Homo sapiens: one gene and its partner. The protein of the gene in region 1 interacts with the protein of each later gene in a pairwise test. Each region holds a gene or a part of one and is shown on either strand. Other genes may lie near its edges.

Region 1 (4,293 bases):
TACTTGATTGCAAGATGGGTGAGAACTTTCAAGTGATCAGAGAATCTTAGAGGGAGGTGATATGAACACATTGGGAAAAGAATGGCCCTGTCCCTGAATGTATAAATCACATCTGCATCATGAAATTCCATTTTATGCAATTTGCTAATAGGGGTGTTGATTTTTTTCTTGTTCTTTGACATATTGTGACTAATCCTGAATCATCTACCATGTGCTCAGACTCTGCTAATTGCTGTACAAAGTCTCCACACAGAACTGATTCACTTTTGAACTGTCTGGCTGACTTGCTTAAGTTCAATACACAAAATATGTCATATGCTAGGCTTATCGTAAACATTTTACGTGCTAATTTTTGGCCACCTAGTAAAGAGGCTTCCACATCACACAGGACCTCATTTAAGGACATGTTCAGTGTTCCCAGTTGAAAAAGTTCACAAGTATTAGGCTAAATACAATTCTCTTCAACACTGCTCAGTCTAATAAAGAAATCAGTAACAGACCTATGTACCTAAGTGAAAAAACACAATAGTGAGGTCCTATTTCCAAAGCTATTCTGTACCTTTCTTAATACAACCTTGTTATTGCAGCATAAACACAAAGAAGTCTGGACCTATTATAAAACCAAGTGAGAACCAACCCCCCCCGCCCCAAAAAAAAAATGCTGGGCTGTTGTTGCTGTGGATTTTGGTTTTTTTAACCTCACGTCTGCCTGAGTCAGGTTCACTGAATTCATCAACCTTTTCTTTGGTTTCCTGTGCACATTATAAATCCAGAAGGCTCTGATCCCAGGGATTGTTCTAACTCATAATTAGGAAACGTGAGCCCATTTCAACCACACTTCAAAGACAGGGAAGGAGGGGGAACGTAAATTCCTCTTTCTAAATCGAACCATCACAGAACTCGGCATTTCAACTGTCTTCATCTATTATCAGATCCAAAGCAACATAACCTCAGTGATTCTGGAAGAACTCAGAGAACAGACAATTCATGTAATTAAAAGACTTTGTGCGTGATAATTGGCTTTGAAGTTTCTGAGAGAGATCTCATCTCAAAAATCTTTGCAGAAAAATATGGGTACAGGGTTCTTGCAGCACGTATTAGAGACTGCTGAGACGCTTCACTCTCCTCCCAGTGTATCTATCTGCAGGAAAGGGGCACGGGTGGGGGAACCACACACAAGCAGCCCAGGTCAATCATGAGAAAGAATCTCCCGCACAAATCACACCATTTCTCTTCAAGGAAGAATGACTGTCCAGAGCTTCCAAACTTGCTCTTCCCATGACAGACAGGGATGCTGGCAGAAGAGAAGAGGAAACATTGAGGAATTCCTGCCTTGACACATGGCTTCAAGTCAGGGCTCCGCTGGGAAAATTCGGGTCACAACTTGTAGCTGAAACTCCACGTGCACCCTGCGGGGCCGCTGCTGCTCCCAGCACCCTACGGAAGGGTGAGCGCCAGACCCTGTGCCCAAACCTCACAGCGGCAGACCTGGAGAAACCCATCCCCCTTCTTCAGAGCCGCCCCCCAGGCTATATTTTTGGCAGCCTATAATACACAAAATAGTATTCCCATACAACAGGAGTGCTCCAAAATTATTTCCAAATAGGTCAGTGCCACCAGGGAAAGTCAATCCCAAATTCCAGAAATCTCCCTGGTCATCTCAATCCCCTCCTCCCCCGACAGCCGGCTCGGCCCTCCAGAGGCCACCTTTCCTCTCAAGGGTCCCCACGCCCTCTCCCTTTACAGAAAAGGCTTTCAGGAAACAGCCTTCCTTTCCTTTCGGCTCCTTAGTAGTCTCACCTAAGGCCTCCCACCCAAGTGCTCCAGGACAAGCACCTTCGGCCAAGGGGCGTCCGAGGAGCTTGGCTGCCGCACGAGCGCACGTTCACACGCGCGCACACACACATGCACACAAGCGCGCACACACACTTGCACACGAGCCCTCTCTCCCGGCCGCCCCCATCCTCCACACACTCCCACACACTCACTCCAGGCGAAGTTAGTCCCCGGGCCCTGGCGGCCGCGGCGTCCTCACCTTTGGAAAACAGGGCGGCCAGGCTGATGAGTACCGGCGACCAGTGGTGCCACAGCGTCCCCATCTCAGACGGGCACATCCTGGAGACCCGGAGCGCAGATCCTCCGCTCCCCGGCGCCGTCCAGGCGAACAAGAGACCGTCTCAGTCCCCTAGAGGCCCGCAGCGGGGCCGGTGGCGAGGGAGCGCCCGGCTAGGGGCCCGAGCAGCCCGGGCGCCCTGCTCCCTCTTCCCGCCAGTCCATGGCCAGGCCGGGAGGCGACGACCGCGCGGGCTCCTGAGTTGCTCTCCGGAGTCCAACACGCGCGCAGGCAAACCCCACCTCCCTCCTTCGACCCCAACAGAATTTTTTTTAAATTTTAATCCACAGGGGGTATTTCCTTTCCTGTTTACCCGAGCGAAGAGTGGCCCCCGGTGGCCCAAGGAGGGGCGCCTCCAGGCGCAGGGCTCCGGCGGCTCCAGCTGCTCCCGGGCTGGCTAGCGGGCGCTGGCGCAGGCGGCGCCGGGGTGGCGGGGCTGCGGAGCCCGGGACGCGGGCAGAGGCGGCTCGGAGCCCCCCGGGCGGGTGGCCGGGCTCGCTGGGCGGCCCGGGGCTCCCTGGCCCGCAGCCCCCATCCCAGGCCGGCCGCTGCGCCTCGGGGCTCGGGCGCGCGCGCGCTCCGGCACCCAAAGTTTGGCGGGTGCGGCTGCTCCCCGGCCGCCGCCTCGGCCCGCCCGGCCCCGGGCCCGGCTGGGGCTCGCGGGGCTCTACGCGCGCCGAGCGCACTGCAGGCTCCGGAGACGCGGGGCTCCCCCCTGCGCCCGGGGGAGGCGGGCCAGATGTGCGCGGAGGAGGGCCCGCCGGCTCGGGGACGCGGCCGAGCAACGCAGCTGCCTCCTGCCAGCAGGCGCGGGGGCTCCGCTCCGCAAGGACCGCATCCGGAACGGAACGGAGGCGATCGCCACGGTGCCCGGAGCCGGCTGGGGCTTTCGCCTTAAAAATTTGTCTGCTTTTAAAAAGCCCCACCCTTTCGGAGTGACAGCTGTGAGCCCCAATCCGCAAAGTAAATCCCACCTCCCCCTGGCCGCCCCACGCCCAGCCTCCCGGCCACCCTCCCTGCGAGCGCGGACGCGCGGTGGCGGCGGGCGAGGGCTCCCAGCGCGGGCGCACCCCGGGGACGGAGCCACCCACTCTCCCAACAGGTGTCCAGCTGGCCACCGGCCTCTCGTCGTCATCAAAACCTCAGGCCCAGGGGAGGTCCTCCAGCCCGGGGGCACCTGAGGCTCTTCGCCAGGGAGAGCGCAAGGATGGCTGGAGAAGGGCCCTCGCCCCGCCCTGCGCATCTCCCAGGGATCGCAGTGAGGAAGTCTCTGACACGCCACACTGAGGTCATGCTGGCCCCAAGCCCCTTCCCAGAGCGATCCCCCAAGTTAGTGTCCCTAGAAACATGTCGTGTGCTCCCCAGGGCTCACTGGGAAAGGAAATGGATCCATTAGGAGACAACATTGCTTTGAGAAGATAAAAGACATGATTCTCAACACCGCCCGGAATCTCCAACTAAGACATTCCCACACCAAGATCCCTAAGCACCGTCCTGTAATTTGTAGCCCAAGAACTGCTTTGCTCCACGAGAGCCTTTAAATTAACCCCATCAAAGCTCAGAGGGAAGAAAAGCATTCAGAATTTTTAAGGAATATTGTAAACCAACAAGCCCTGAATCTAATGAGGTGAATTCACCTCAGTAGATAAAAATGGGTCGTTATCATCTGACTGAGGGGGCAATGGACTTTTTTATCCTGTATGCCTGTAGTTGCAGAAATATACCAATGCTTTAAGAGTTTTTAGCTTTCAAAGTTTCAAGGAAGATCAAAAAAGCCACTGCTGTTCTACCGAAGATTGTTTTTCTGGGTTCATGTCCTTTGAGATGTGCTCTTGTCTTTTATTCTGTATCTACTTATCTGAATATATCTGTCTTTCTGTTTTTTCTTTTGTTTGTTTCTTAAACTTGTTGCCTTTTCTCTTTGTATTGCTCTCCTGTAAAATTCCTAAGAGTCGACGCTGCAAAGACCCTAAGAGATTGTCTCTTTCACTGTTTCTGAAGTTTGAACCAGCAGGAGAGTCACTGGAAAATTTGTTAGACCTGGGTTGCTGGGCCCACCCCAGAGCTATCTCGGCAGGTCAAGGTGGGACTTCCGATCTCCGTTCCTAAAAAGTTCCAGGTGATGCTGATGCTGCCGGCCTGCGGAACACGTGCTGGAACCACTGGTCCCCTTTCTCCTT
Region 2 (3,500 bases), about 89 Mb from region 1:
AGTGCAACGACATGATCCCAGGTGATTATATAGCGTGAACCAGACCTTACTGAACTGATGATCCTTGGAGGCTGGCTAGGAGCTGTGAAAAGTAGTAATATGCAATCAGTGGTCACTATATCCAATCTCAATTCTGCATACTCTATTGCATCAGGTATTATAATGCTGATGATAATGACCACCACCATCTAGTTTTAATAAGTGTTTACTATATGCCAGGCACTATGCTAAGCACTTTACATCCATGAGTCCATTTAATGTACCCCATGGCCCTGTGAGCTAGGTAATATGACTTTTATTCTCTTCTCATCATGCTCCACTTGGGTTTCTTTCTCCACTAGTCTTTTGAAATTGCTATTTGCAAGGTCATCAATCACCTCCACTTGGTTAAATCTAATGTCACTTGATTATTCTTTTTTAAATTTAACATTTTTGGAGCATTTCACAGAATTGACCATCTTCTTTCTTGAATCTCTCATTTTTTCTTAAATTCAGATCTTAACAACTGGGTTTTCCTTCTACCTCATGGGCTGCTGCTTCCCATTATTCATGCTTAGCTGGCTCCCTCTGTCAACTTGTAACTGTTGGATGATTTAGGACTTCATCTATGTACCTTTTCTACTCTCTCTGTGGATCTTCCCTAAGTACTGACACTTAGGCCCATGGCTTTAAATATTCACAGTTCTGTCTCTAGCCCTAATCTCTCTTTCAACCTCTAGACATATGTGGCTATAGGTCTCTCTGTCTAGGCAGATATCAGCCTATTTCTACTTGAGTCTCTAAAAGATTTCTCAAATGTAATATAATCAAATGTAATACATTTTTCAAATGTAATATAATGTCGAGTATCCTCAAATCTTTCTCCAATGACTCTTTGCCATCGTCAGCAAATGGCACAACCAACCCCCTAGTTTCTCAAGCAGAAATTTGGTATTTAGTCTCTCATCCCACTCATTGCCAACATCCAAATTGGCAGCAAGTTGTCAACTCTGCCTACAGAAAACTTTCCACTTCTGTCTCCATTTTCACTTAGTGCTAGCCACTATCAATTCTCTCCTTGACTGCTGAAATAGTCTCCTAACTGGCTTTTCTGCTTCCACTGTTAACCCACCACAATCCATTTTCTGTACAGATGCCAGAATGACTTTTTTAAAAACAACATCATAAATTAGATATCACTCTCTGTTTTAAAATCTTTCAATGGCTTCTTATCATGTTTAGAAAGAACTCAAACTCATCACAATTACTTACAAGGTTCTCCGTAATTGGGCCCCAGAACACTTCCCCCTCCTTACTCAGAACCTATGCCCTGGACCCAGTGGCCTTTCCACACCTAAAATATTTTAAGTGCTCTTCACCTTAAGGTTTTGTACTACTTAGAGTGCAAAGAACCTTAAGGCTCTGCCTAAAGCTATTCACATAGTGGGTTCTTCTTATCATTTATCACTCAAATCATAGCTTAACTGGCATCTTCTCAGAGGCCTTTCCTGGCCACCCAATCAGAATTTCACTTTTATCTAAGTCACTTTACTTTTGTCTATTTATTCATTTTATTGCCCTGTCAGCTGCTTTAATCCCACTTATTTATTTGTCAGAGTTTGTGTTTGTTTGAAGTTTCTATCTCATTTCATTAGCTTGTAAACCATGCGAGAATAGCACCTTGGACTGGTTTGATCCCTTTTGTATCCTCACCATCAAGAATAGTGCTGAGCACACAGCATATTTTTGATGAATGAATAAATACATGAACAAATGGAAAAAGAACAAAAATGAATGCTCCTTTTACAAATTAGAAAACTGAGGTTTAAATAGGTAATTTATCTATTGTCATACATCTAGCAAGTGGCAGAGACAGATCTCAAACACATGTTAGACACCAAATTCTAGTTCTTGTCACTACATTCTGTCATCTCACTGGGAGAGTCTCTGTCCCAAAGTGAATTTCATAAATTTTCACACTCTAATGGTAATCACATCTTCAGATTCTTGAGACATTCCCTAGAGTCCTACATAAAAATTCTCCTTTTTACTTATTCCACTTGGGTTCAAGAACAGAGATATCAAAATGAACCCAGAGAGATTAGAATGACCAGAACGTGAGCAGGGATAGGCGGTCTTGTTTTATGAACCACCTAAAACATACAGTACTAGAACATACAGTAATAAGAGAGTAAGCATAATGCTACACACTTAACTTGCATTGCACTGTGCAATGACAGAGGTTTATAAATTAAAGCATGTAAAAATAAGCAGAATTTTAGTTTTCACATGCTGTTGATGTACTCCTATGAAAACAATGTTTAAATTAATAAGTACAGGGTAAAGACAAGTTAATGGCACAGAATTTGAGAGGACAGCCTTTACAAAAGGATAGTTCTCTAACTTTATTTCTATAATGGAATATTTAACGTGTGAGGGTATTTTTCACATTTTTTCATCATCTACAATAATTCACGTTTTAAGGGAAATCTTGTGTGGCTGTAAAGGATATTGAAAAATGTGCTCAGGTAGCTAGGTAGGAAATTTCCTTCAAATATATTCGTATCATGATTGAATCCAGTGGTAGTTTTTGACAAGTCTAAAAACAAAACGTGAGACTCACGTGCTTTCTTGGTGAAAGCCTCAATCATGTCACTTGGAGGTCCACACCCTGCACTATTGCAGGCCCCGACTTCTATAAAATACTGGGTGTCTGGCAGAAGGTTCTCGAGCCTGGCCGAGTACTCTTGGCTGGTGACTTGAACTCTGTTTGCAGCTTCTTCTTTGTCATGGGCAGCCCAATACCGAATCTGCAAACATTCAGGATGAGTTATATTTTGCCATGATTTAGAGTCTTCAGCTATGAAAAGTTCTCTTCAACTGGTTCTATTACCATTGGTGTTGGCTGATCATCATATTTTCAAATGTTTCTTAATGATATCTACCCTTTTATCAGCCTTAGAATATAGTAAAGCATACAGGGCAGGAATGACTAAAGATGCCAAAAGCGAATCAAAGTCTTACTTCATTGCCCAAAATTGTTTTACATTGACTAAAAAAAATAAAAAATAAAAAATTTAAAAATCCCAAAAACTTTGAAGCAGACTTACTTTCAAAATATAAAAGTGGTCTCCATTTGGAAGTATTTGTCACTATAATTTTTATCATTTATTTCCTGTTTTACTTCTGTTTGCATGATTTCAAACTTCTTCTGAGCCATTCTTAAAGCAGTTGGAGAGGAATATAATTTTGCTGGATAAAAATAGTTACTATGTGGCCTAGAATACGCTAAAGTAATACTTTCTTCTGCCTCCTTTCAGAAGTATCTAATGTTATTTCCTTTGAACCCATATAGAAGCTAGATATCAAAGAAATATATCTAATAACTGGATAAACTGTAGAAATTATTTACCCATAAAATAATTTTTAAAAAAGTTATCGATTTTTTCATTAGAAATGATTACTTTTGTCAAATAATTACAGGATTACTTTTCTCTTAAAGTTTAAGAAAAGTTATGGAT

Evidence for each region. Proteins that work in one complex are often made in the same cells at the same time.
Region 2: the proteins of TMEM132D (region 1) and CNTN1 interact in a two-hybrid assay, tested with the Homo sapiens proteins (one large-scale study listed by BioGRID).

Annotation. Positions count from the first base shown.
Region 1 is NC_000012.12:129,901,226-129,905,518, forward strand, and holds the start of TMEM132D (transmembrane protein 132D precursor), read right to left. Parts: upstream 2,801-4,293; 5' UTR 2,115-2,800; coding exon 2,036-2,114; intron 1-2,035. UniProt on the Homo sapiens protein: Regulate neuronals morphology via inhibition of the WAVE regulatory complex (WCR), a complex that controls F-actin cytoskeletal dynamics.
Region 2 is NC_000012.12:41,024,439-41,027,938, reverse strand, and holds part of CNTN1 (contactin-1 isoform 1 precursor), read right to left. Parts: intron 2,790-3,500; coding exon 2,603-2,789; intron 83-2,602; coding exon 1-82. UniProt on the Homo sapiens protein: Contactins mediate cell surface interactions during nervous system development.